Linked DNA regions of Homo sapiens. The protein of the gene in region 4 interacts with the protein of the main gene of each other region in a biochemical or structural test. Each region holds a gene or a part of one and is shown on either strand. Other genes may lie near its edges.

Region 1 (4,203 bases), on a different chromosome or scaffold from region 4:
TATAGGGGAGATAATTTTTGAAATTCTGGCTATAGGTTAATCAAAAAGGTTGTGTTTTGGAAAGTGCCTCGAGTGCTGTGCACATTGTAGACAGGTTGGGAGAGTAGGACTAGCCCTTGATCTCTGTCCTCTGAAAGTGTAATTTGGGGAGTAAGAATAATCACCTAGCAAAGGTTAATTAAAAAAAAAAATCAACTCTAAATTTCTATTTAGAATCAAGCAACGTGGAAATCTTTGAGAAAGTTTATTCTAACTGATAAATATTGTGAAATCTGGTCTACTTTAATATGAAAAATTTAAGATAAATTATTACCACATTTATAAAGATTTCTAAACTAGGATCTCTACACCAGAGGTCAGCAAATGTTTTCTATAAAAGTTACATAGTAAACATTTTAGACTTCACAGGCCATAAGGCCTCTGTCACAACTACTCTGCTATTACACCAGAATAGCCATAGACAACACATAAACAAATGGCATGACTGTGTCCCAGTAAAACTTTTTTTTTTTTTTAAGGCGGAGTCTCGCTCTGTGAGACAGAGTGTCACTCTTGTTGCCCAGGCTGGAGTGCACTGGCGCGATCTCGGCTCACTGCAAGCTCCGCCTCCTGGGTTCACGCTGTTCTCCTGCCTCAGCCTCCCGAGTAGCTGGGACTACAGGCGCCCACCACCACGCCCGGCTAATTTTTTGTATTTTTAGTAGAGACAGGGTTTCACCATGTTAGCCAGGATGGTCTCGATCTCCTGACCTCGTGATCCGCCCGCCTCGGCCTCCCAAAGTGCTGGGATTACAGGCGTGAGCCACCACGCCCAGCCAAAACTTTATTTACAAAAACGAGCAAAGAGACCACCAGATTTGGCCCTGGGCTGTAGTTTGCTACCCCCTGCACTATACTGTAAATGAGGGGTTTACAAACTTTTTTTTGTGAAGGGCTGGGTAGTAAATATTTTCGCCTCTGCAATCTACATATAGTCTCTGTCACAAATTCTTCTGGTTTGGTTTTGTTTTCTTTTCTTTTTTAACCTTTTAAAAGGTTAAAAAACAGAACTATTCTTTGCTCCAGACCATACAAAAATAGGCTGTTGGCTAAATTTGGCCCATGAGCTTTAGTTTGGGGACCCCTGCTATAAATTATTCATTTCATGGGTAATTGGGGAAGTTGCTGTTTACTTGGCACTGTACTGGGCTAACCTCAGAGGTACGTTGAAAAATAAAACATGATTCTTCAAGTTGGGAACTCTTAATTCTGTATGCATGGACGCAGTAGTCTAATATTGTGATGACCAAAAATGAATATGTATACTTAACCTTATTCATTTCAACTCTCATCTTTACATTTTCATTTAAAATCAGTTCAAGAAAAATACTTGCCAGGCATACCTCTGGTCCATCCCAGCTGCTGGGGAGGCTGAGGCGGGAGGATCACTTGAGCCCAGGAGTTAAAAGCTGCAGTGCATCATGATCGTGCCTGTAAATAACCACTGCACTCTGGTCTGGGCAACAGAGTGACACCCTGTCTCGAAAAAAAAAAAAATATCTAACATTTTAAAATTTAAAAAGAAAAATTCTAAGGAAATTTTGCTAAGCATTAGAGTTTCTTTACTGTGTCTTCTGAGTGTTAACTAAATACTTACAAGGAATATAGTGATGAATGATGATAATATTGTTTTCCTCACGATGTTATTTGGCATGAACACTTGTGGTACGTGCTCTGTAGTTTCTCACAGGCAATAATAACTTGAAACAGAGAGAAGATAGTTTTTCTGGCAAGCCTTCTAATTGTACGTTATCTCCAATTTTAGGTGGACACTCTTGAAGCCATCTCTAATCAAGTGTTTAGCTGTCTCATCGTCTGTGAGCAATGAAGAGATTTCTCAAGAGCATATCATTATAGAAGCAGCTGACAGTGGTCGTGGAAGTTGGACTTCGTGTTCAAGCAGCTCCCATGACAACTTCCAAAGCCTTCCAAACCCAAAAAGCTGGGATTTTTTGAACTCTTACAGACATACCCATTTGGATGACCCCATTGCTGAAGTTGAACCCACTGACTCTGAGCCCTATTCCTGTTCTAAAAGCTGCTCTAGAACTTGTGGGCAGTGTAAAGGAAGCCTAGAGAGAAAGAGTTGGACCTCCTCCAGTTCTCTGTCTGACACGTATGAACCAAACTATGGGACAGTTAAACAGAGAGTATTGGAGAGCACCCCAGCTGAGTCATCTGAAGGCTTGGACCCCAAGGATGCCACTGACCCAGTTTATAAAACTGTCACTTCAAGTACAGAAAAGGGCTTGATTGGTAAGTTGTGTTTTTGTTGTCTGTGGCATTTAGAGATTAAGTAGTCAAAAAATGGCATTGGGATATCTTGGCCCTGGATTTTATCGTCGCAAAAATTCATTCTCTAACAACCTTTCTTTCCTTCACAAACAAACAAGTTATTTCCCAAAAATTCATGGTTTCTCAAAGACTTTGGAGCAGCTATTCAACCCCATTAAAATGAAAAGTCTGATGTGAAGGTATTTAATTAGAGGGACAAGTTTGTTTGTCTTTTGTTTTTAAGTTCTTTTTGGTTTTATTGAGGAATATCATCGCATTAGTGTGCAATAGTAGTAAAGGGATTATTCTCTTTATCACCTCATAAATTGTTTGGACCACAATTGGTATGCATACGTGGTAGAAACATTGAATCTGCTATTGATTTTAGGTCGTAACAGTGAGAGAAAATGCAATCAGGAAGTCCAGAACATTTTTCAGTATACTCTCTTGGTGTACATCATGAGTGTGCCAACTCCTGTTTGTGAATTCCATTCCAAGCTTTCTTAGTAAACTTTTTTTTTTAGTATTTGGCCATCAAATACTTTTTAAAAATTTCTTTCCTAAACTATATAAATACGTGGATATAAAACTGCTTTTCTACTTATATGGAATGACTCTACTTTGAATTAATATCATAATCAACTGTTAAATTTATGCAACAGTCATGGTGTCGCATTTAACTACTAAAAATGTGAAGGTGAAATGTGCTGATTTTATAGTTACTTGTCAAATTGCATTATAGGTTGGGTTTTTAGCTCATTCATTTTTTTCCAACTTTTTTTTTTTTTTTTGAGATGGACTCTTGCTGTATTGCCCAGGCTGGAGTGCAGTGGCATGACCTCGGCTCACTGCAACCTTCGCCTGCCAGGTTCAAGCAATTCTCCTCTCTCAGCCTCCCAAGTAGCTGGGATTACAGGTGCCTGCCACCATGCCCAGCTAATTTTTTTATTTTTAGTAGAGATGGGGCTTCATGTTGGCCAGGCTGGTCTCAAACTTCTCACCTCAGGTGATCCACCCACTTCGGCCTCCAAAGTGCTGGGATTACAGGCGTGAACCACCGCACCTGGCCAGAAGTAAAGTTCTTGAAGGAATTAGTTCCTCCGTACCAGCAAAGTTAAAGTTTATATGCTAGGACTGAGAACTAATCTGCCCAGGAGTGCCAGAAAACATTGGTTCATGTCTCAGAGAGAAGGTGAAACAGCCCTTAAACAGATGGCCCAAATGTCATTTCTATGTAAAGTCTCCCAGTTTACAGAGAATCGGTGTGTAGGGTGAACTTTTAAATGTTTCTGATATCTTTAGGGCTGGTGTGACTTCAGGAGTTGTCATGTACTTCTGTGATATGGGGGCTGAATTGCAGAAGGAAGCTTGTCATCAGTGTCATCTCCTTCAACTCTCTCGTTCTATTTAATGTTTACAGGACTTAATATAGTTGTTTATGTATTTTAAAAAGAGGTTTGTTTATTAAACTTTTAAAAAATGTTTTTGATCTGCCATCATTCAAGTTTATTCATTTTGTCTATTTTTAAGTTGTATTTTGTCATTGTAATAAGTTTGTGGGGTGGTTTCTTTTTTTTTCCATTTCTTTTTCATTAACATTTTCATTGCTTATTTTTCATGCCAGTGTACTGTGTCACCTCACCCAAGAAGGACGATAGGTATAGGGAGCCACCTCCCACTCCTCCAGGATATTTGGGGATTTCTTTAGCGGACCTAAAGGAAGGACCCCACACACACCTAAAACCTCCAGATTATAGTGTGGCAGTGCAGAGGTCAAAGATGATGCATAACAGCCTCTCTAGACTGCCACCAGCTTCTCTCAGTAGCAACCTCGTGGCCTGTGTTCCATCGAAGATTGTAACTCAGCCTCAGAGGCATAATTTGCAGCCA
Region 2 (4,203 bases), on a different chromosome or scaffold from region 4:
TTTTGAGGCCCACAAAGAGAAGGTTTCAATTGACTTGAGAGGCAATTGGGAGCCACTGCCAGATTCTGAGAAAGGAGGGAATAAGATATAAGCAGGAAAGAAACACTCATTGCTGCATGTGGAGAGAATATCCCCTATCTCTCGCTGGCACCCAACACCACAACCGCCTTGCAGTTGTGGGCTGAAGGCCACCAGGGAGAGGAGACTGGCCAGGGGAGGGTGGCAGCTGCCCCAGGCTTCTGGCCCTGAGGGTTTCCCAGATATGTGAGGCATTCTGCTGAGTGGCCAGACTATTGGCCTGAACTCAGTAAGTGCCCCCTCCAACATAAGCTCGTGATGCTGTTGGTGCTATGGCTTCTTTGGATAGTGCAACAGAGCCTCTACCCCACTGGAGGAGAGGTCTGGGGACTCCTATGAGGCTGCGAGCTGCATTTGGAATGAGTCAGGGGACCCCTCCCTCTTGTAAGTGGTGCAGTCCGAGGGTCTTGAGAAGTGAGCTGTGTGGCCCAGTTGGGGGATTTTGTGACCAACGACATCCTCTAGGAGCAGTAGTAGATTGAAAAAGTGCAACAAGAAAGCCCTGGGATTGCTGATGATAGCAGCAAGCTGGGAAAGGCTTGCTGGAGATGGGGGTGGGGGTGGGTAACAGAGGAGTCTCGGGTGGGATGAGTAGAGGAGAGGAATTGCCCCACCGCAGTAATCCTTACTTCAGCCCTTGGAGGGAGCATGGGTGGATGCAGGACAACGGAAGCACTCTGTACCCACCCTCCCCCACTACGCATAAATGATTGGACTCCGTGGCTAATGCCTGATAAGGCACTTGGAGGGGCAGCACCAATGCAACAGAGGAAAGATCCCTGTTTTTGTGGCACCTCCAGGCTAACTGAATGAAGCCATAAGACACACATACATACACATACACACAAATACACACACACATATCACACACAAGACACACACCCCTCAGACACACCCTCAAACCCCAACACATACCTGGGGCAAATTGTGGAAAGAGAGGCTCATGCAGACAAGCTTGGTTTTGGGGGGTTCTTGCCTTCACATATAGGCCCTAGCAATCATTGCTAGGGGGACTAGAATTGATACCTATTGATACTAGATGAAGACCCTTAGCTTTGACAGGCCCCCTGGGAGGAAGCACACTCAAGTCAGCTTCTGTTTGTGGGGCAGCCTTAAGGCCATTAGCATTCCCAGCAGAAAATTCTGTTCTGGCTCTTCTCTCAAGGACTTCTATTTTCCTTTTTACCATAAGTTCAGAAACAAAAACATTCTCTTGCATTATCGGCAGCCAAAATGAAGGACTCTCAAAATGGGGTGGACCTTATTGTCTGCTGAGAAATCCTGGGGCTAGGGGCAAAGGGGTAGGGTAGGGAGCAAATCCAGAGAAACATGCCATTTTCCCTCCTTTCCTCCCCTCAGCTGAGCTGCCAAAGGCAAGGACAGTGATCTTGGGGTTCTGTATTATTTCCCACCCATGACAGGCAGAGCACCCTTTTCTGAGACCTGAGGCACCATCCTTAAAACAGAACATTAACAGCCTGTGGCACACTAGTGCCCAATCCCTGGTAGTCAGAAAATGAGCCTGGAAATGGGAATATGTGTATAACGTGGGGCGGGGAAAGGAGAGAGAGGGAAAGAGGTGCTACTTGTGTATCTGTAGGAGCAGGTGTGTCTATTTCTGTGTGTTTGTGTTAAGGAACATGAGAATGAGCAGGTGTGTGCACTCTTGCAGCTTTCTCAGCATGCATGCCGTAGCCAGTGTTTTTGCTCTGTGCCTCAAATTCACTTTGCCATTAGCCACACTACTAGCCACCCGCAGCTTTTGAAAGAACTCTCTGCTAGGTTCTAATATCTGGGTCTCCTTCCAGCCAAGTGACCCCTCCTTTTTTCTCTTTTATTGCTAGTTCTTCTTACTACCCCTCAAATCTGGGTGTTCTCCAGCTCCTCCTGCTTTCCACTTTCTTTATTGACAAGGACACACAGGCATGCATGGCTTCCCTTCTCACCTCTTTACCAACCATTCCCATTTCTCTAGCCCAAACTTAACCCCACTCCTGAGGTTCAGTCCTATATTTCCAACTGCTTGCTAAACATTTCCTCTTGGATAGCTTGCTCTCAGACTCAGTATTCACAAACTCATCTCATTATTTCTCAGAGATGACTCACTCTTCTCACCTTTCTTTTACCATAAGGCTTCTTGTCTCCCAGTCTAGAAACCTCAAAGCCATCTCTGACTCATCCCCTATGCCCCAGTCCACCCTGACTCCTGCCACCACCTCACAGCCACACTGCACTAGTCTCTTTCCTTTCCAGTCCATAATACACACAACTGCTAGATTAATGTTGTGGAATATCCTTTATTCATAATGCTTCTGATCATCATCCTTGGAGGGTGATACCTGATTGCCTGTGGGATAAATTTCAGCCTCCTTAGCCTGGCATTCAAAGTTCTCCTTGTGTGGACCTAACCCTGTATATTCTTCCAACCCTATTTCTCATGCTTGGTCCACATCATTGATTCTCAAATTTTAATGTGTCTTAAAATTGCTTGAGGGAACTTGTTATAATGCAGATTCCTGAGTCCTACCTCCTGAGCTTCTGATTCAGTAGGTCTGGAAGCTGGAGTCCAGGAATATGCATTTTAACAAGCTCCCCAAGTGATTTTGATACACTTGATCTACTTGTGAAACAAAGCCCTACATGGACCCTTCTACTCCAGCCAAGTTTCTTACCCCAGGATCTCCTAAACGTACCTTGTACATTTTTTTTGCCTCTATGTTTTTGTTCATTCCATTTCACTCACCAGGAATGCCCTTTCCTTTCTGCCTATGCTTCTCTCCTATTCCATATCACTATACCTATCCTTCAGCTCTACATTCAAATTCACCTCCTCTGTGAAATCTTCTCTGATCATTTTAGACTAAAGTGATCTCTCTCTCCTCTCAACTCCTCCGTCTCTAAAATACATTTGGGGCTGGGTGTGGTGGCTCAGGCCTGTAATCCTAACACTTTGGGAGGCTGAGGTGGGAGGACAGCTTGAGCCCAGGAGTTTGAAACCAGCCCTTGCAACATAGCGAGACCCTATTTCTACAAAAAACTAAAACATTAGCTGGGTATGGTGGTGCATACCTGTTATCTCAGCTACTCGGGACTACAGAGAGGCTGAGGCGGGAGGATGGCTTGAACACGGGAGGTCGAGACTGCAGTGAGCTGTGGTCGCACCAGTGCACTCCAGCCTGGGTGACAGAGTGAGACCCTGTCTCTAAATAAATAAATAAATAAAAATACATTTGGCAAGTACATCTTTTTTTTTAATTTTTTTAAATCCCCATAGCATATGTGCCTAATACACAGTAGGTACTCAATAGGCATATGTTGAATTGGACCAAATACTTGTTGATTCATATTAGACAGGGATTCTATCGCATCTCCCCCTGCACATTAGTTCATAAAACATTTATTGAGCACCAATTATGTACAAGGCACTGTGCTAGTTGCTGTGGATAATACAAAAGATGAAGGAGGCTTCCTGTCCTTCTCCTTCTCAGTCATCTTTGAATTTACAGTGCCTAGTGCATAGAAGAGATACTTAATAAATATTTGTTGACTACTCAAATGAATGACTTCATGAATAAGTGAAGGGATGAAGTTCAGACTGGAAAAAACTTGAGCAAGTACGTAGGGTGGCTGTGTCATAGAGAAATAGGGCAGGAATGGAAGATAAGGCTAGGAAGATAGAGTGGGTATAGTGGATGACTATTATTATTATTATTATTATTTTTAGAGACAGGGTCTCACTCCGTTGCCCAGATGAGTACAGTGGCATGATCATGGCTCACTGTAGCCTCAAACTCCTGGGCTCAAGTGATCCTCCCACCTTAGCCTCTCGAGTTGCTAGCTAATTTTTAGTGTTTCATAGAGACAGGGTCTTGTTGTGTTGCCTAACCTGGTCTCCAATTCCTGGGCTCAAGCAATCCTCCCACTTCAGCCTCCCAAAGCACTGGGATGACAGGCATGAGCCACTGTGCCCAGCCTGTCTTTACTTTTTCTTATAAATATTTTCAACCTCAAAAAAATTAGAGAAAATAGTATAGTAACCCCCACATACTCATTATCCACATTAACTAGTTATCAGGACTTTGCCATGTTTGCTTCACCTATCATGCCAAACATCGATCACATCAT
Region 3 (3,403 bases), on a different chromosome or scaffold from region 4:
CTTGAGTTCATCGCTCAGCATCTCCCCCAGCTTGGGGCCAGACTGAGCAAGTGTCATCTAGAAGGTCTCGGGAGCAGGGCTTTTAGGGGGCTGGCAGACAGTGAGCAAGGCCCACGTTCTCTGAGTTTGTCTGGAGAGGACTGCCTGGCCTGCTCTGTCAGGTGGCTGGGGAATCCCACAGGAACGGGAGGATAGCTTCGACTTCTCTGTTTGCCTCCTGATCTCATTCTCTTACTGTGGGGACAGGGAACTGCTTTTATGTCAGCATGCCATCAGGACCCCCGGACTCAAGCACCGACCACTCAGAGGCACCCATGAGCCCCCCTCAGCCTGACAGCCTCCCTGCAGGGCAGACAGAGCCTCAGCCTCAGCTGCAGGGAGGCAACGATGATCCAAGACGCCCCAGCCGCTCTCCTCCAAGCCTGGCCCTCAGGGACGTGGGCATGATCTTCCATACCATTGAGCAGCTCACTCTCAAGCTCAACAGGCTCAAGGTGAGGGAAGCAGGGCTTGGGTCCCTGCAGGCCTTCAGTCCATCACCCCAAAACCATTCCCCATGAGTGAGATGTGTGTCTTCGCGGGAGCCCTAGATCCTGTCCTGGCCCAGGGATCTTCCCCCAGCCCGCCCAGCCACCCTTAAATCACACCCTCCTCCCCAAGGCCCAGCACAGACCCCTTCCCCAGGGGCCTTAGGAATAGAAGGACTCGAGCAGACATTCCCCCGCCGACTCTTCCAGGATATGGAGCTGGCCCACAGAGAGCTGCTCAAGTCCCTTGGGGGAGAGTCATCTGGTGGCACCACGCCTGTGGGCAGTTTCCACACAGAAGCAGCTAGATGGACAGATGGCTCCCTCTCACCTCCCGCTAAGGAGCCCCTAGCTTCTGACTCCAGGAACAGCCATGAACTGGGGCCCTGCCCTGAGGATGGTGAGTGAAGCCAGGTCCCTCTCGGTTCCTACCATTGGGGGAGAAGTCTGCCAACTCGTGAGGACACATCACTAAGCAGTGAGAGATGGTGGTTCTGAGAGTGGTTTCCCCTTGAGTGAAACGAGTTCATTCTCTCAGCTTCAGAGAGGGATCTTTTTAGGGAAGTCCCACAGAAGCTCCCTGGCAAAATGGGGAGCTTAGCACTGAGCCCTCTTTTTCCTTGTGCTATGGAGGTAACAAACCAGGAGGAGCCTGTTCTCACCTCTAAGACTTGTTCTTTTTTTAATTTTATATATATATATATATATATATATATATTTTTTTTTTTTTTTTTTCTATTTATTTGAGACAAGGGCTGGCCTGGCTATGTTGCCCAGGCTGGTCTCAAACTCCTGGGCCGAAGTGATCCACCCACCTCAGCCTCCAAAGCAGCTGGGATTGCAGGTGCACACCATGGTGTCGGCCTAAGACTCGTGCTGATTAAATGATTCAGAACCACACTGGGTGGGCCAGGGACACAGCTATGTCATAACTCAGGAAGACAAGGCACATACCTACCTGACCTAAGGGCTTTAGGCGCTGATGAAAGTGGAGTTCAGTAGACAGCCCTTTTCAAGCCCTACGAGAAACTGGGGTTTCTGGAGGAGAAGGAAGGTGATGAAGGATCTGTTCTCGTGAGCCTGAACTTTCTAGACAAAACATGTGGAAGCGGTCACCTCAGGCTGGCCAGTTCCTCACCTTCATCCTCCTCCCACAGGCTCTGACGCCCCCCTGGAAGACAGCACAGCAGACGCAGCCGCGTCACCAGGACCATAACCGTACAAACCACCAAATCCTCTGCGTCCCCACTCCTCCTTCAGGGACTGGCCTGAGACCGGGGCACAGGGTAGGGGGGATCCCAACACTCCTCCCTGTGGAGGAGGCAGTTAGGGAAACTAGGATCCAGCCAAGGCCCGGGGGGAGACCCGCATGTTGCTTGGTCTGCTCAAGTCGGAGTCAGGTTTCAGTGTCTTTTCCCTCCCTTAGCCCAACCCTCCAAGGCCTCATGTCTCCTAAGCATGCTGACTGCATCCGAAAGGCCCCCACTCACCATGGTCTGCCCTCACCCCACATATGTGTGTACACGCGCACGCCTGTATGTGCGCTGCCCTCAGACATGCAAGTGAAAGGAGGAGGCTTCTGTGTAAATGCACTTTCTTCCTCCCCTCTTTCTCCATAAGACCCCAGGCAGAGGTGGGTGCCTCCCCTCCCCTCTTTGTCACTTTGGTTTCCTATAAATATGTATGTATCGTATGTGCATCTTTGCTATTGTAAATAACTTTGACCTTTTTTGTTCCTGTTCCTGAAGTGCTGGAGGCAGTTATGGAAGGAGCTGCTTAGGGAAGAGGGGTTTCACTTGTATCTCCTTAGTTAACAACCCAGTTCCAGGATCGAGCCTAAAGCGGGAGCCAGGCCTGAGTGTTCCTGTCCCTGTGAGTGGGAAGGTCTTCTGGCTCCCCATCCCACCTGGCTCCAGAGCCTGCCCTCCACAGCTTGCTGCCAAGCTACTCCCTCCCTCCCTGGACTTCTCATCTTCACAAGATGGGGATCATGGGGGTTTCTTACCCCACCTATGTCCCCCTCTTCCCCACCCTGTCCCTGTAGAAAACCAGTGAAGCAGGTACGGAGCTGAGGACTGGGCCCCAGGAGGTGGGGACAGGGGTCTGAATGCCGAGTCCCTGAATTCACCCAGGACCATCCAAGGGGCCACCGCAGCATTGGCCCCATCACCACGTCCTCACCCAACTCTCCCTGATGAATAGAATATACACACTGTGCTAGGTGTATATATACATATATATATATATAAATATATATATAATATATAAAATATAGATATGGAAATGACTGTTCTGCTGTTAAGATAATGTATACTCTTTTATTTTCTTCCTTTCATGGTTAAGATTTTTTTTTTAAGAAAAGTTAAATATCCTTCAGTGGTGGTGTGTGTGTTTCTTGGAATCGCTGTGATAAAAGGTACGGTGTTTGTTCCCTGTAAGACTGGTTAGGATTGGATAGTGGGAACCAGAGGGAGCCCTCTCACCCCCAGACCCAGATCTTGCCTGTTCCCTCCCAGAGCTTCAGCTGTGCACTCACTGAACTAGGGACTGGGCAAACTTAAGTTGTACAACCCCCATGGAGAAAACATGACAAGACACTGAACTCAGTTACACACACACAGATATATATATAGATACATATATATACACACATATATAGATATACACACACACACACATATATATACACATATATGTGTATATAAAGGAGCAGTGGACCCAGAGTCAAGAGGTCTCATGAGCTGCCCTCAATGAGCTTGAAGACTTTAAAAGCCAAATCTAAGTGGGAGGGTTGCCTCAGGCCTGGCCAGTTCATCACTGTCATCATCCATCCACATCCTCCCACAGACGCAGCCACATCACCAAGACTGTAACCA
Region 4 (4,203 bases):
GGCTCTGTTGCCCAGGCTGCAGTGCAATGGTGCAGTCATAGCTCACTGCAGCCACTAATTCTTGGGCTCAAGGACTCCTACCGCCTCAGCCTCCCAAAGCACCATGTGTGAATTTTAAGTAGGAAGAAAATCAGTACATTTGTCTGAATGTGAATCCTGACTTGTAGTCTAAGTTCCCAGGGAGAGAAAAACTTTATGAAAAGAGTTGAAAATTCAATCAGAAGATAAAGGTCCACCTGTAGAACAGCAGTTCCTAGGATCAACTGCTTTCTAATTCTACAAACTTGCATTGTTTATAGTGGTGTTCTGTTAGAACTTGCTTTATGTACATGAGGTAGCAATGTACAGTCAACAATGTTCTTCAATATAATAGTGTCATCAGATAAATTCAGCATGTAACCTTTTAGAGTTTCATTCCCTCTGACAATAACTTATCACTATTATTCAATATCTTACTTATCTATACAATAATAGTATGTATAAAAAATGACTGCAGGCAAACATTCTAGGTTTTTGTGTGTTCAAAAAATGAATAGATCAATACTAGGGCTTACAAAACAAATTAACTGACCGGTTGCATTTTTTTGAATGCAATAGATCATTAAAAAAAATGATCTGGGCAGAGGCAACAGTAAAGTAAAGATTCAACCACATAATAGCCATGATTGAGTAATCAACTCACTTGTGATGCTGGAAACTATGTTTCATCTGGATACCCAGTTTCACCGAGAAAACTAAATTGGGCTGAAAATTGTGGTTGATCTGTTTGAGTAGAGGTTATTTTAGCTTGTGAGCAGTGACACGGTGCTCTGGGATTCTGGTCGTGTTGCTCCATCATATAAATTAACTGTCATGGACATTTTACTTTCCATGTAGGTAAAGATAATAAAAGGCTGAGGTTCACCACACAATGTCATGGAAAGGGACATATCTGTCAGCCCAGTGCACACCAGTTCAGACAATCCTCATGTCCACAAGCTTTATATCTATTCTAAATTCATAGGAGTGGGACAGAAGGTTCTGGATTAATGGAATCCTTAAAAAAAAAAAAAAACTGTCTTGTCTACAACCTGAAACTCTTCTGGAATCCAAATGGACTGGGAGCAAACTGGTTGGTTTTTGACAGAAATAAAAGGCCAAGGAAATAAGCAAAATTTATTTCCTTTCTTCAATAATTTTATAATCCAACTCAGGAGCACAGAGTCTCAAAGTCAGTAACCTCCCACAAGCCATCTACAGGCAAGATTTATAATCTGTATAAATAAGATGTATCATCTATATACGGATGTATTTATAACTTACAGCACTCTATTCCCCTGTCCTTCCTCCTTGTCAATCCTATACCTCACATCGTCCCAGAGGAAATATCTGGGAAGATTCTCTTAGCTGTGGCACTATGATTTCCTAGTGAATAGTTTTGTAATCTTAATTTACTAATCCCATCCTTCTATTCAGATGACCAGCAATTATGTGCCACTTATATTAAAAATTCAAAATAAGAAAATGAAAGTTAAAAAAGTAAATAGCCCTATCTGAAAGTTATATATGTAAACAAGAGTTCATGAAAGTTTTTTCTCCAATCACTGTAGTTGATCTTTTGAAAGTTCAGTTTCTTTGATCAACAATCAGTAAACCTCAAAGGTTAAACGTTGAAGAAAAAAAATCTGGAAAGAAAAGAGGTAGAAAACTTAAAATTAAAATGGACACAGCCCCTACTAGAATGAATAGAAACATTAACATAATCGGTCAAGAACACTTACTGGGCATATTCTGAAAAGATGCTTTGACAACTTTAAGCAGATGCCATAATCCTTAATCTCAATTAATTTCTGATAACCAGAGTTTGGAACATTACAAATAGATGCAGGCCAGGTGTGGTGGTTCACACTACCAATCCCAGCACTTTAGGAGGCTGAGGCAGGGGATTGCTTGAGCCCAGGACCATCCTTGAAACCCCATCTCTACCAAAAATACAAAAATTAGCCAGTCTCATAACCCGGTCTCAAAAAATAAATAAATAAATAAATACAAATAGATGGAAGTTAATAAGTCACTCGAGGGTAGCAATTTTCAGACTATAAAAGTTTGAGAAATCCAAGATGCTTAATATTTCAATGATGGGGAAGCAGTTTGGTCTGATGTGGAAAAAAACATAGACATTGAGACGGCTGAAACTCTATAGGAAAGAAAGCAAATGTGATGGAAACTTAGTCAGTTAGAAAAAGGAGAAAGTAGGAAAGTGTGAGTGTTTTGAGGCAGTGGAAAGCACAAACTGAGATTCAAATCATGCTGACAGTATCTCTCTACCCTGTGTAGGACACCTTTGTGCCTACAAAGGTAGGTGGATCAGTGGCCTATGACCCATCACTGATCCCAGGACCAGGTGGCTTCACAGATGAATTCTATCAAACATTCTAGGAATTAATGCCAATCCTGAGTTTAGAAACAGTTCTACATTATCATGTGTAATCAATAAATGATTTAATTCTTTTTTAAAAAAAGAAGCAGTTCTAAACTCAGTTTATGAGACCAGCATCACCCTGATACCAAAACCAGACAAAGACACCACAAAAAAAAAAAAAAAACCTACAGGCTGACATCCCTAATGAACACAGATGAAAAAATCCTCAACAAAATACTAGCAAACTAAATTCACCATCACATTAAATGGATTGTATATTCTAATCAATTCTGATTTATCCCTGGCATGCAAAGATGGTTCAACATATGTAAATCAATCAATGTAATACACCACATTAACAAAGTGATATAAAAAGGCCACATGATCATCAAAATAGAGCATAAAAAGCATTTGACAAATTCAACATCCTTGTGTGATTAAAAAAAAAAAACTCTCAACAAATTAGGTACAGAAAGAATTTACCCCAACACAATAAAGGCCATCTATGAAAAGCCCACAGCTAACATCATACCAAGTCATGTAAGACTGAGAACTTTTGCTCTAAGATCAGGAAAAAGACAAAGGTGGCCACTTTCAACACCTCTGCTTAACATAGTACAAGAAGTCTTAATCAGAGCCATTAAACAAGAAAAAGAAAACAAAAGGCATTCAAATCAGAAAGGAAGAAGTAATATTATCTCTGTTTGCCGATGACATAATCATATATGTATAAAACCCTAAAAGTGCCACAAAAAAACCTGTTCAAACTAATAAATGAATTCAGTTAAGAGGCAGGATACAAAAATCAACATATAAAATATCAGTCAGGTTTCTGTACACAAACAGCAAACTATCCAAAAAAGGAATTAAAACAAAATCCCATCCCCAATAACAATAAAAGGAATAAAGTATTTAAGAATAAACTTAACCAAAAATGTTAAAGACTTGCACACTGAAAATCATATAGCAACTTATTCTTTCATGATTATTGTTTTGCCATCTTTGCTCAAGAACTAATGGTAGCTTTGCTTGACAATTATATGAGATGCAGGTTTTCACTGTCATCACTTAATTTAACCTACCTCGTCCCATATTAATACATAACTTAGACTCTCCATACCAACCTAGTCATTTGACTACAGTCTCCCATGCACCATCTCCCCATTCCTCCTGCATATTTGGGGTTACTCTTCATAACCTGTTTCATGTCATTCCTCAGCTCTAATCATCAATGCCTCATTTGAACCTTGATGGTCCCGCCTGAGTGGTCTCACTGGTGGAAGACGATTATACAAGGACATGAGTAATTATACTTATCAATAGCAAACAGAAGTTTTTTCAATATTAGCCTCCTCCAGAAACTTTCTGCAAGAGCTGATTTTATTTCTTTTGCCTTCATTCTTTTTATAGCCAATAAGGTCAGTTTAAACAATAGTAGTCTGCAAATCATTTAGCTAATATTAAAATATTTGACAAATTATTTTAGTGGCACCTAAAATACTTCTCTTATGACAAATGAAAATCCAGAGGATGTTAAGGGCCAAAAATAACTGTAGTCACTGTCAATAAACAGACATTCCCCTGTGCTCCCCCCGTCCCCACTTTCCTTGCCCTTCGGTCCAGGCAAGTTTCAAATTCAGAAAAGTCAGTCTGGAATTATTTCATTCTACATTTCAGGACATAAGTGCAAAGGACAAGAGAAATGTATTTCTTTTCACTCAGCAAAGAAAGTCAGTGGTAAATGTGAGTTCAGTTCTTGCTTCTGCCATTTTCTCCTCTGTTCAAAACCAATCAAGGCCTGG
Region 5 (4,203 bases), on a different chromosome or scaffold from region 4:
AGGGTGAATGGCATAAAGAGACCCAAGTGTGCAATGATTAAATCAGGGTAATCAGCATATCCATCACATCAAATGTATCATTTCTTTGTGGTAGGAACATCTGCCATCATAGAAATACCAAAAGAGAGAAAAATGGGCAGATGTAAATGTTTCTTCTGCCGGCTAATCTGAGTTCTCTTAGAGCGTCTAAAGCAGGGTGGTATTTGTTAGATGTGGGTACTCTATAATTTTAGAGAGAAAACCAGGAAGACAAGAAGGGCCTCCATTTAGGCCACAGAACGCCGTTTTGTTGTTGTTGTTGTTGTTGTTGTTTTCTGAGACGGAGTTTCGCTCTTTTTGCCCAGGCTGCAGTGCAATGGCACATTCTCGGCTCACTGCAACCTCCACCTCCCAGGTTCAAGCAATTCTCCTGCCTCAGCCTCCCAAGTAGCTGGGATTACAGGTGCCCACCCCCATGCCCAGCTAATTTTTTTTTTTTTTTTTTTTTTTTTAGTAGAGATGGGGTTTCACCATGTTGGCCAGGCTGGTCTCGAACTCCTGACCTCAGGTGATCCACCCGCCTCCGCCTCCCAAAGTGCTGGGATTACAAGCATGCGCCACCACGCCCAGCTTTCTGAAAAAGAAAAAAATATTTGAGGTTGTTTATAATTTTCTAGTTTTTAATAATTGAGGGGCTGCTTTCTTATATTATCCCTTTTATCTCCCCTACAACCTCTCCTGTGTATGTACCTTCTGTTTACGTTCCCCACGTAGAACTGGACAGCTCCTCAGACCTCATCTCTTCCCCAGGGAAGAAGGGGGCCGCTCATCCTGACCCCAGCAAGACCTCTGTAGACACAGGGCAAGTCAGTCGGCCAGAGAATCCCAGCCAGCCTGCATCGCCCAGGGTCACCAAGTGCAAGGCCAGGTCTCCAGTCAGGCTCCCCCATGAGGGCAGCCCCTCCCCGGGGGAGAAAGCAGCGGCTCCCCCTGACTACAGCAAGACTCGATCAGCATCGGAAACCAGCACACCCCACAATACCAGGAGGGTGGCTGCCCTCAGGGGAGCGGGACCTGGAGCAGAGGGAATGACACCAGCTGGTGCTGTCCTGCCAGGAGACCCCCTCACATCCCAGGAGCAGAGACAGGGAGCTCCAGGTAACCACAGTAAGGCTCTGGAAATGACAGGAATCCATGCACCTGAAAGCTCCCAGGAGCCTTCCCTGCTGGAGGGAGCAGATTCTGTGTCCTCAAGGGCACCGCAGGCCAGCCTCTCCATGCTGCCATCCACTGACAACACCAAAGAAGCATGTGGCCATGTCTCGGGGCACTGCTGCCCAGGGGGGAGTAGAGAGAGCCCTGTGACGGACATTGACAGCTTCATCAAGGAGCTGGATGCTTCTGCAGCAAGGTCTCCGTCTTCCCAGACGGGGGACAGTGGCTCTCAGGAGGGCAGTGCTCAGGGCCACCCACCAGCCGGGGCTGGAGGTGGGAGCTCCTGCCGTGCCGAACCAGTCCCGGGGGGCCAGACCTCCTCCCCGAGGAGGGCCTGGGCTGCTGGTGCCCCCGCCTACCCACAATGGGCCTCCCAGCCTTCGGTTTTAGATTCAATTAATCCCGACAAACATTTTACTGTGAACAAAAACTTTCTGAGCAACTACTCTAGAAATTTTAGCAGTTTTCATGAAGACAGCACCTCCCTATCAGGCCTGGGTGACAGCACGGAGCCGTCTCTGTCATCCATGTATGGCGATGCTGAGGATTCTTCTTCTGACCCTGAGTCACTCACTGAAGCCCCACGAGCTTCTGCCAGGGACGGCTGGTCCCCTCCTCGTTCCCGTGTGTCTTTGCACAAGGAAGATCCTTCGGAGTCAGAAGAGGAACAGATTGAGATTTGTTCCACACGTGGCTGCCCCAATCCACCCTCGAGTCCTGCTCATCTTCCCACCCAGGCTGCCATCTGTCCTGCCTCAGCCAAAGTTCTGTCATTAAAATACAGCACTCCGAGAGAGTCGGTGGCCAGTCCCCGTGAGAAGGCCGCCTGCTTGCCAGGCTCATACACTTCAGGCCCAGACTCTTCCCAGCCATCATCACTCTTGGAGATGAGCTCTCAGGAGCATGAAACTCATGCGGACATAAGCACTTCACAGAACCACAGGCCCTCGTGTGCAGAAGAAACCACAGAAGTCACCAGCGCTAGCTCAGCCATGGAAAACAGTCCGCTGTCTAAAGTAGCCAGGCATTTTCACAGTCCGCCCATCATTCTCAGCTCCCCCAACATGGTAAATGGCTTGGAACATGACCTGCTAGATGACGAAACCCTGAATCAATACGAAACAAGCATTAATGCAGCTGCCAGTCTGTCCTCCTTCAGTGTGGATGTCCCTAAGAATGGAGAATCTGTTTTGGAAAACCTCCACATCTCTGAAAGTCAAGACCTGGATGACTTGCTACAGAAACCAAAAATGATCGCTAGGAGGCCCATCATGGCCTGGTTTAAAGAAATAAATAAACATAACCAAGGCACACATTTGAGGAGCAAAACCGAGAAGGAACAACCTCTAATGCCTGCCAGAAGTCCCGACTCCAAGATTCAGATGGTGAGTTCAAGCCAAAAAAAGGGCGTTACTGTGCCTCATAGCCCTCCTCAGCCGAAAACAAACCTGGAAAATAAGGACCTGTCTAAGAAGAGTCCGGCAGAAATGCTTCTGACTAATGGTCAGAAGGCAAAGTGTGGTCCGAAGCTGAAGAGGCTCAGCCTCAAGGGCAAGGCCAAAGTCAACTCTGAGGCCCCTGCTGCGAATGCTGTGAAGGCTGGGGGGACGGACCACAGGAAACCCTTGATCTCACCCCAGACCTCCCACAAAACACTTTCTAAGGCAGTGTCACAGCGGCTCCATGTAGCCGACCACGAGGACCCTGACAGAAACACCACAGCTGCCCCCAGGTCCCCCCAGTGTGTGCTGGAAAGCAAGCCACCTCTTGCCACCTCTGGGCCACTGAAACCCTCAGTGTCTGACACGAGCATCAGGACATTTGTCTCGCCCCTGACCTCTCCCAAGCCTGTTCCTGAGCAAGGCATGTGGAGCAGGTTCCACATGGCTGTCCTCTCTGAACCCGACAGAGGTTGCCCAACCACCCCTAAATCTCCTAAGTGTAGAGCAGAGGGCAGGGCGCCCCGTGCTGACTCCGGGCCGGTGAGTCCGGCAGCGTCTAGGAACGGCATGTCCGTGGCAGGGAACAGACAGAGTGAGCCGCGCCTGGCCAGCCATGTGGCAGCAGACACAGCCCAACCCAGGCCGACTGGCGAAAAAGGAGGCAACATAATGGCCAGCGATCGCCTCGAAAGAACAAACCAGCTGAAAATCGTGGAGATTTCTGCTGAAGCAGTGTCAGAGACTGTATGTGGTAACAAGCCAGCTGAAAGCGACAGACGGGGAGGGTGCTTGGCCCAGGGCAACTGTCAGGAGAAGAGTGAAATCAGGCTCTATCGCCAGGTCGCAGAATCATCCACAAGTCATCCATCCTCACTCCCATCTCATGCCTCCCAGGCAGAGCAGGAAATGTCACGATCATTCAGCATGGCAAAACTGGCGTCCTCCTCCTCCTCCCTTCAAACAGCCATTAGAAAGGCAGAATACTCCCAGGGAAAATCAAGCCTGATGTCAGACTCCCGAGGGGTGCCCAGAAACAGCATTCCAGGGGGCCCCTCGGGGGAGGACCATCTCTACTTCACCCCAAGGCCAGCGACCAGGACCTACTCCATGCCAGCCCAGTTCTCAAGCCATTTTGGACGGGAGGGTCACCCCCCACACAGCCTGGGTCGCTCTCGGGACAGCCAGGTCCCTGTGACAAGCAGTGTTGTCCCCGAGGCAAAGGCATCCAGAGGTGGTCTTCCCAGCCTGGCTAATGGACAGGGCATATATAGTGTAAAGCCGCTGCTGGACACATCGAGGAATCTTCCAGCCACAGATGAAGGGGATATCATTTCAGTCCAGGAGACGAGCTGCCTAGTCACAGACAAAATCAAAGTCACCAGACGACACTACTGCTATGAGCAGAACTGGCCCCATGAATCTACCTCATTTTTCTCTGTGAAGCAGCGGATCAAGTCTTTTGAGAACCTGGCCAATGCTGACCGGCCTGTAGCCAAGTCCGGGGCTTCCCCATTTTTGTCGGTGAGCTCCAAGCCTCCCATTGGGAGGCGGTCTTCCGGCAGCATTG
Region 6 (4,203 bases), on a different chromosome or scaffold from region 4:
TCTGTGCTAGGAACGGTTATTACCATTTTTTAAACTGTTGCAAATGTGTACTCTCTGACAACTTTGTTAACAACAGCTTTGAAGAAGAAAAGTAATTTTTGAGCGTGTTATTTCAAGCTTAGCCTTACTCTGGGCTTTGCTGGATCGGATATAAGAAGTATCCTGTTTCTATTAGCTAAGTAGTTGGAGAATAACTGATGGAATTATTAACTACACCAAACTAAACTAAGAAAGTAATCCGAATAAAAAGATGACAGTGTTTTGACTATTTCTAATAAGCCTAAGACATAGAAAACTTTTATAAGAACAAAATGAACTTCAAACTCATGCTCAAAAATAAGGGTCAAATGAGATCATTATGTATAATAGGACTCCTGTTTTCCCCTTGTTTTCTGGCTCAACCTTGAGAGTGGTCGTCTTAGACTACTGTGAAGAGTATTTATAAAGTATCTTTGAGAATCTTCAAGATGCTATGATGGCTTTTCATATTTAAAACTGTGTGATCTTTAAGGTTTCTGGAATTAGTCACCAAAGGTGTGTATAATAAAACTTCTCAATAAATGTAATCCAGCATATAAACAGAACCAAAGACAAAAACCACATGATTATCTCAATAGATGCAGAAAAGGCCTTTGACAAAATTCAACAGCCCTTCATGCTAAAAACTCTCAATAAATTAGGTATTGATGGGACGTATCTCAAAATAATAAGAGCTATCTATGACAAACCCACAGCCAATATCATACTGAATGGGCAAAAACTGGAAGCATTCCCTTTGAAAACTGGCACAAGACAGGGATGCCCTCTCTCACCACTCCTATTCAACATAGTGTTGGAAGTTCTGGCCAGGGCAATTAGGCAAGAGAAGGAAATAAAGGGTATTCAATTAGGAAAAGAGGAAGTCAAATTGTCCCTGTTTGCAGATGACGTGATTGTATATCTAGAAAACCCCATTGTCTCAGCCCAAAATCTCCTTAAGCTGATAAGCAACTTCAGCAAAGTCTCAGGATACAAAATCAATGCATAAAAATCACAAGCATTCTTATACACCAACAACAGACAGAGAGCCAAATCATGAGTGAACTCCCATTCACAATTGCTTCAAAGGAATAAAATACCTAGGAATCCAACTTACAAGGGATGTGAAGGACCTCTTCAAGGAGAACTACAAACCACTGCTCAACGAAATAAAAGAGGATACAAACAAATGCAAGAACATTCCATGCTCATGGGTAGGAAGAATCAATATCGTGAAAATGGCCATACTGCCCAAGGTAATTTACAGACTCAATGCCATCCCCATCAAGCTACCAATGCCTTTCTTCACAGAATTCGAAAAAACTACTTTAAAGTTCATATGGAACCAAAAGAGAGCCTGCATCACCAAGTCAATCCTAAGCCAAAAGAACAAAGCTGGAGGCATCACACTACCTGACTTCAAACTATACTACAAGGCTACAGTAACCAAAACAGCATGGGACTGGTACCAAAACAGAGATACAGATCAATGGAACAGAACAGAGCCCTCAGAAATAACGCCGCGTATCTACAACTATCTGATCTTTGACAAACCTGAGAAAAACAAGCAATGGGGAAAGGATTCCCTATTTAATAAATGGTGCTGGGACCACTGGCTAGCCATACATAGAAAGCTGAAACTGGATCCCTTCCTTACACCTTATACAAAAATCAATTCAAGATGGATTAAAGACTTAAACGTTAGACCTAAAACCATAAAAACCCTAGAAGAAAACCTAGGCGTTACCATTCAGGACACAGGCATGGGCAAGCACTTCATGTCTAAAACACCAAAAGCAATGGCAACAAAAGACAAAATTGACAAATGGGATCTAATTAAACTAAAGAGCTTCTGCACAGGAAAAGAAACTACCATCAGAGTGAACAGGCAACCTACAAAATGGGAGAAAATTTTCCCAACCTACTCATCTGACAAAGGGCTAATATCCAGAATCTACAATGAACTCAAACAAATTTACAAGAAAAAAACAAACAACCCCATCAAAAAGTGGGCGAAGGACATGGACAGACACTTATGCAGCCAAAAAACACATGAAAAAATGCTCACCATCACTGGCCATCAGAGAAATGCAAATCAAAACCACAATGAGATACCATCTCACACCAGTTAGAATGGCAATCATTAAAAAGTCAGGAAACAACAGGTGCTGGAGAGGATGTGGAGAAATAGGAACACTTTTACACTGTTGGTGGGACTGTAAACTAGTTCAACCATTCTGGAAGTCAGTGTGGCGATTCCTCAAGGATCTAGAACTAGAAATACCATTTGACCCAGCCATCCCATTACTGGGTATATACCCAAAGGACTATAAATCATGCTACTATAAAGACACATGCACACGTATGTTTATTGCGGCATTATTCATAATAGCAAAGACTTGGAACCAATCCAAATGTCCAACAATGATAGACTGGATTAAGAAAATGTGGCACATATACACCATGGAATACTATGCAGCCATAAAAAATGATGAGTTCATGTCCTTTGTAGGGACATGGATGAAATTGGAAATCATCATTCTCAGTAAACTATCGCAAGAACAAAAAACCAAACACCGCATATTCTCACTCATAGGTGGGAACTGAACAATGAGAACACATGGACACAGGAAGGGGAACATCACACTCTGGGGACTGTTGTGGGGTGGGGGGAGGGGGGAGGGATAGCACTGGGAGATATACCTAATGCTAGATGACGAGTTAATGGGTGCAGCACACCACCATGGCACATGTATACATATGTAACTAACCTGCACATTGTGCACATGTACCCTAAAACTTAAAAGTATAATAATAAGAGGGGAAAAAAAAAAACCTTAAAAAAATAAAAAAATAAAAAAACTTCTAAGGCAACTTGTAACTCCCCAAATAAATGCATAATAGGACTTGGTTCAACATTGTGAACATTAATTTTAAAAATTAATGTTTTTTCGGTGAAGTCCTACAGTGAAACCATATAGGGGAATGCGCTGCTTGAAATAAATATGTATATGCACATGTATTACCTCTACCTCCATGCTGAGGGAATCTTAATTCTTAGAGAAATGTTCTTTAGTTTACAAGTGAATTTTAACTACAATCCTATTCTCTACTAACACTTCAAAAAACAATCTACGTTGCCACATATTTAAACTGCTTTCCATTTCTAGAACAGAGAAATTAGAACATGAAGGTTTGACTACAACTGATTCCTTAGACTTCTATACTGCGCAACTACATAATGTGATTTTTTAGAAGTAATTTTTTATGATAGGCAAAATTCTCAATTTTAGCTGCTCTTCAAATAATGAAGACACAATCAACAAAGTAATACTTCATTTGTTAACTAAGCTCAAGATGTCAAGATGTCAATGTTAAATTGAAAACAGGATGCATAACATAGCCCATCTCCCTAAAATAACAATGTTTTTCTATTTTATCTTAGGATCATTTTGTAATATATAAAGAAAGTTAAATCACCTTAATTTTATAACAGAAAATTTTAGAAATTCAAAAATATATGGAAAATAAGCAATATACTCCCAAATAACCAATGGATCAAACAAGCAATCACAAGTGAAAGAAAATACTTTGAGAGGAGATGGTGCTGTTGAAGAGCACAGTTACAGACAGAGCTGACCAGGCTCTTCCAGAGTGCCAGTTGTCCAGCAGCATGTTCATTACCCTGAAGATGTATGATGGTTGAACTAAACCCATTCATTCTAAGAAAAGGTTCTGTGGAGGGCTTTAAGCCCTTGATAATTGTCTTAAAAGCTACTGATGGGAAAAAGATCAGCACTGTGGTGAGCACTGAAGAGCTGAATCATATGGCTAATTCAAACATATTAAGAGCTAACATGGATGGGCTGAAGAATAGGGACAAAATGAGTAAGAGTAAGCAGCACAGTGAAGGGCACTACATTTCTTGCTTTCCCCAACTAATGGATGAATTGCTATTTCTTCTTCGGTTTTTACTTTTGGTCACAAAGATGGGTTCCCGTTCTGCCATATTAACTGTACTCATGTAAGGTTTAAGGTCATTGTGGAGGGAAGAAGGGTTGGAACAGCACAGTTGTTGTAAGAAGCCAGTTTATTATTTTAGATCTGGCTAACTGGTCTGTGTTGCATAGTTGCATATTCGGGATTACAATTTTAAAGTCTCTGTAGCCATCTACAGAGACATGT
Region 7 (4,203 bases), on a different chromosome or scaffold from region 4:
GGATTCCAGGTCTTTAAGTGTGAAATGTGAAAAGCCCATTGCATAAGAGAGCCCGACCTCATTGAGCTGGTTCTCAGCCCAATCAGTGCCTTTGCAAACTGCCCAGGTATGTAGAGATGCTGCCATTTCCTTCTTGTCATGGGCAGGCAGCCAGATGGCTTCATCAGCCAGAAAATGAGGGAATCCGTTTGGGATGCTTGAGGCATGATGCTTAGAGAAGATGCCCACCCAGGCCCTTCTGAGATCCCTCTAGGAAGGGCCAGGATCAGGGTGAGGTGAGGGAGGCACTGCTTTGAGGGCAGAATTTTTTTTTTTTTTTTGAGACCTCTGTCGCCTAGGTTTGGAGTGCAGTGGCGTGATCTCGTCTCACTGCAACCTCCGCCTCCCGGGTTCAAGCCATTCTCCTGCCTCAGCCTCCCAAGTAGCTGGGACTACAGGCACGTCCCACAATGCCCGGCTAGTTTCTGTATTGTTAGTAGAGATGGGGTTTCACCATGTTGGCCAGGCTGGTCTCGAACTCCTGACCTCAAGTGATCTGCCCGCCTTGGTCTTCCAAAGTGCTGGGGATTACAGGCATGAGCCACTGCGCCCGGCCTTGAGTGCAGAATTTAAGGGGGCACTGGAAAACTCAATAATCATGAAAAAAAATGACATTTAAATGCAATATTAAAAAAATTAATACAGGTAAAATATATGGTGAACAAAGTTGGAACTTTGGCCTCCTCCCAAAGGAAGGGAGGAAGGCTTGGGAAGGGCAAGAAGTTGCCCTAGGCTCGGGGAGAACAGAAGCACCAAGGTGGTTTCTCCTTATGCACCTGCTGGTGGGGCAGAACTGAGTCTTCCCCAAGCCCATCTGTAGAGCTCACCACTTAAAACCATGGAGCCTCCTAATCTCAGCCCCATCTCATGTGCTGCCAGGTGGACATCTGTGTGCATCGGTTCCCAGCGATGAATAGTCCCAGCTCTGAGGGGGGAAGCCTAAGTCTGAGCCATGGCAGCATGATAGGGCTATTGAGAGTTCAGGCTGCATTCACATATACCCTCTTGTTGTTCCCCATAAGCCAGCCAAGTACCCCAAACCATCTCTCATATTGTATTATTCAGCAGTGGGTAATCTGTATTTATGAGGGCTACCGGATAGCTGTGGCTCTGCTGGGCTTGGCAGGGCTGGACCAGGCCCCGAGTCCTCTCATTCAAGCCCAGGGAAGGGAGAGGCACTCTGGTGCTTGCTGTTTTCATGGCAGAGGCAATACCTCTGTGGGAACAGGGCCAAACCACACAAGTGCCCTTAGTGCTTTTGCCTGTATAAGGCTCACATCTGCTCACGTTGGCTAAAGTCAGGATGGGGAAGTCTACTCCATCGAGAGCAGGGTTTCTCAGCCTTGGTGCTATTGACATTTTGGGCCATATGAGTCCTTGTTGTGGGGCTGCCCTGTGTATTTTGGGATGTTCAGCAGCATCCCTGACCTCTGCCCACTAGACGCCAGTGGCATCCCCTTTCACTGTGACAATCGAAACTGCTCTCTAGGAGACAAAACTGCCCCCAGTAGGGAACCACTGACTGGAGGTAAGCATGGCAAGAGAGGGGCGGGGTAATTGTGGTCAAAATACAGTCAACCATGTATTCTAAATGCCCCTTGTTGCCAGGCACAGTGGCTACTGGAGAAGCTCTGGTGGGAGGATCGCTGGAGGGCAGGACTTTGAGACACAACATAGCGAGATGCTATCTCTAATCAGTAAAAATAAACAATTAATAAATGTCCATTGTGTGAACATGTGTCTCAATTTTTGGTTCGGAAGGATTGGTCAGCATACAGGGACTCACTTTCTGAAAGAACAAGAGAGCTAAGGCCCTTGTCTGTCAGCCCCGCGATTGCCCGACGTGACTGCAGTCATGGGGTGACCCTCTCTTCATCCCCTCACCTGGCACAGGAAGCTGTTTCTTTGCTCTTGTCCAGTGGTTCTTGGATCAGTGGCGCCTGGGAACTTGTTGGAAATGCAGTCTTAGGCCCCATCCTGGGCCTTCTGGCTCAGAAACTCTGGGGGTGGGGCCCAGCAATCTGTGTGTTAACAAGGCCTCCAGGTGATTTTTACCATTATTAATAGCTACCATGGTACAGGGCTTTGTTACCTAAGATGTGATGAGTGGGGCCTTAGGCAGCTCAGCATCTAGCTACTAGGGGCTTATTTTACACGCACCAGGCTGACTACAGAAAGGCTCCTTCCTCTGCTCTGTAGGAGATGATTGTTATCTGCCTGCTGTAGCATGCTGTATTCTGATGGTTTTGTTCTATCTGTGATGTGGATTTCTTTTCTAAGAACTTTATTTATTTTTAAATTTCCAACATTTAAGTTCAGGGGTACATGTGTAGGATGCACAGGTTTGTTACATAGGTAATGACGTGCCATGGTGGTTTGCTGCACAGATCATCCCATCACCTAGATATTAAGCCCAGCATCCATCAGCCATTCTTCCAGATGTTCTCCTTCCCCCACTCCCCACCATCTGACAGGCCCTAGTGTGTCTTGTCCCTCCACCATGTGTCCATCTGTTCTCATCATTCAGCTCCCACTTACAAGTGAGAATATGTGGTATTTGGTTTTGTGTTCCTGCATTAGTTTGCTGAGGGTAATGGCTTCCAGTTCCATCCATGTCCCTGCAAAGGACAAGATCTCGTTCCTTTTTATGGCTGCATAGTATTCCCTGGTGTATACGTACCACATTTTCTTTATCCAGTCTATCATTGATGGGAATTTAGGTTGATTCCATGTCTTTGCTATCATGAATAGTGAGTGCTGTGATGAACGTAAGAGTGCATGTATTTTCATGATAGAATGATTTATATTCCTTTGGGTATACATCCAGTAATGGGATTGCTGGGCTGAATGGTATTTGTGCTTCTAGGTCTTTGAGGACTCACCACACTGTCTTCCACAATGTTTGAACTAATTTACATCCCAACAGTGTGAAAGCGTTCTTTTTTCTCCACAACCTTGCCAGCATCTGTTGTTTTTTTACTTTTTAATAATAGCCATTCAGACTGGCGTGAGTCGGTATCTCATTGTGGTTTTGATTTGTATTTCTCTAATGATCAGTGATGTCGAGCTTTTTTTCATGTTTGTTGGCCGCATGTATGTCTTTTGAAAACTGTCTGTTCATGTTCTTTGCCCACTTTTTAATGGGGTTATTTTTTTCTTTTATTGAGATGGAGTCTCGCTCTGTTGCCCAGGCTGGAGTGCAGTGGCACAATCTCAGCCCATTGCAACCTCCGCCTCCTGGGTTCAAGTGATTCTCTTGCCTCAGCCTCCTGAGTAGCTGGAACTATAGGTGCATGCCACCACACCTGGCTAATTTTTGTAATTTTAGTAGAGAGGGGGTTTGGCTATGTTGGCCAGGCTATTCTCAAATTCCTGACCTCAGGTGATCCACCCACCTCGGCCTCCCAAAGTGTTGGGATTACAGAAGTGAGCTACTGTGCCCGGCTTATTTTTTTCTTGTAAATTTGTTTTAAGTTCCTTGCAGATGCTGGATATTAGACCTTTGTCAGATGGATAGATTGCAAAAATTTTCTCGCATTCTGTGGGTTGTCTCTTCATTTTGATGATAGTTTCTTTTGCTGTGCAGAAGCTCTTTAGTTTAATTAGATCCCATTTGTCAATTTTTGCTTTTGTTACAATTGCTTTTCGGGTTTTCATCATGAAATCTTTGCCCATGCCCATGTCCTGAATGGTATTGCCTAGATTTTCTTGTAGTGTTTTTATAGTTTTGGGCTTTACATTTAAGTCTTTAATCCATCTTGAGCTGATTTTTATATATGGTGTAAAGAAGGGATCCAGTTTCAATTTTCTGCATATGGCTAGCCAGGTCTCCCAGCACCATTTATTAAATAGGGAATCCTTTCTTCATTGCTTGTTTTTGTCAGGTTTGTCAAAGATCAGATGGTTGTGGGTGTGTGGTCTCGTTTCTGGGTTCTCTGTTCTCTGTTCTTCTACCAGTACCATGTCGTTTTGATTACTGTAGCCTTGTAATATAGTTTGAATTTGGGTGGCATGATGCTTCCAGCTTTATTGTTTTTGCTTAGGATTGTCTTGGCTTTTTGGGCTTTTCTTTGGCCAGGTGTTAATCTCCTATTTTATAGAAAAATAAACTGGGGACCAGAGAGGCTAAGTTACTTGCCCAGGATCACAGAGCAGAGTCACTCC

What was found.
Region 1: the proteins of CD226 (region 4) and RAPGEF6 interact in a test that uses a peptide from one of them, tested with the Homo sapiens proteins (one large-scale study listed by IntAct).
Region 2: the proteins of CD226 (region 4) and FRMPD3 interact in a test that uses a peptide from one of them, tested with the Homo sapiens proteins (one large-scale study listed by IntAct).
Region 3: the proteins of CD226 (region 4) and ARHGEF11 interact in a test that uses a peptide from one of them, tested with the Homo sapiens proteins (one large-scale study listed by IntAct).
Region 5: the proteins of CD226 (region 4) and PDZD2 interact in a test that uses a peptide from one of them, tested with the Homo sapiens proteins (one large-scale study listed by IntAct).
Region 6: the proteins of CD226 (region 4) and PALS2 interact in a test that uses a peptide from one of them, tested with the Homo sapiens proteins (one large-scale study listed by IntAct).
Region 7: the proteins of CD226 (region 4) and PDLIM1 interact in a test that uses a peptide from one of them, tested with the Homo sapiens proteins (one large-scale study listed by IntAct).

What each region holds. Positions count from the first base shown.
Region 1 is NC_000005.10:131,428,951-131,433,153, reverse strand, and holds part of RAPGEF6 (rap guanine nucleotide exchange factor 6), read left to right. Parts: intron 1-1,804; coding exon 1,805-2,295; intron 2,296-3,937; coding exon 3,938-4,203. UniProt on the Homo sapiens protein: Guanine nucleotide exchange factor (GEF) for Rap1A, Rap2A and M-Ras GTPases. Does not interact with cAMP.
Region 2 is NC_000023.11:107,452,283-107,456,485, forward strand, and holds part of FRMPD3 (FERM and PDZ domain-containing protein 3), read left to right. Parts: intron 1-4,203.
Region 3 is NC_000001.11:156,934,340-156,937,742, reverse strand, and holds the end of ARHGEF11 (rho guanine nucleotide exchange factor 11), read left to right. Parts: intron 1-246; coding exon 247-494; intron 495-737; coding exon 738-927; intron 928-1,498; exon of another isoform or gene 1,499-1,612; intron 1,613-1,684; coding exon 1,685-1,743; 3' UTR 1,744-2,903; downstream 2,904-3,403. UniProt on the Homo sapiens protein: May play a role in the regulation of RhoA GTPase by guanine nucleotide-binding alpha-12 (GNA12) and alpha-13 (GNA13). Acts as guanine nucleotide exchange factor (GEF) for RhoA GTPase and may act as GTPase-activating protein (GAP) for GNA12 and GNA13.
Region 4 is NC_000018.10:69,888,449-69,892,651, forward strand, and holds part of CD226 (CD226 antigen isoform a precursor), read right to left. Parts: intron 1-4,203.
Region 5 is NC_000005.10:32,086,378-32,090,580, forward strand, and holds part of PDZD2 (PDZ domain-containing protein 2), read left to right. Parts: intron 1-753; coding exon 754-4,203.
Region 6 is NC_000007.14:24,674,031-24,678,233, reverse strand, and holds part of PALS2 (protein PALS2), read right to left. Parts: intron 1-4,203.
Region 7 is NC_000010.11:95,238,796-95,242,998, reverse strand, and holds part of PDLIM1 (PDZ and LIM domain protein 1), read left to right. Parts: intron 1-4,203. UniProt on the Homo sapiens protein: Cytoskeletal protein that may act as an adapter that brings other proteins (like kinases) to the cytoskeleton. Involved in assembly, disassembly and directioning of stress fibers in fibroblasts.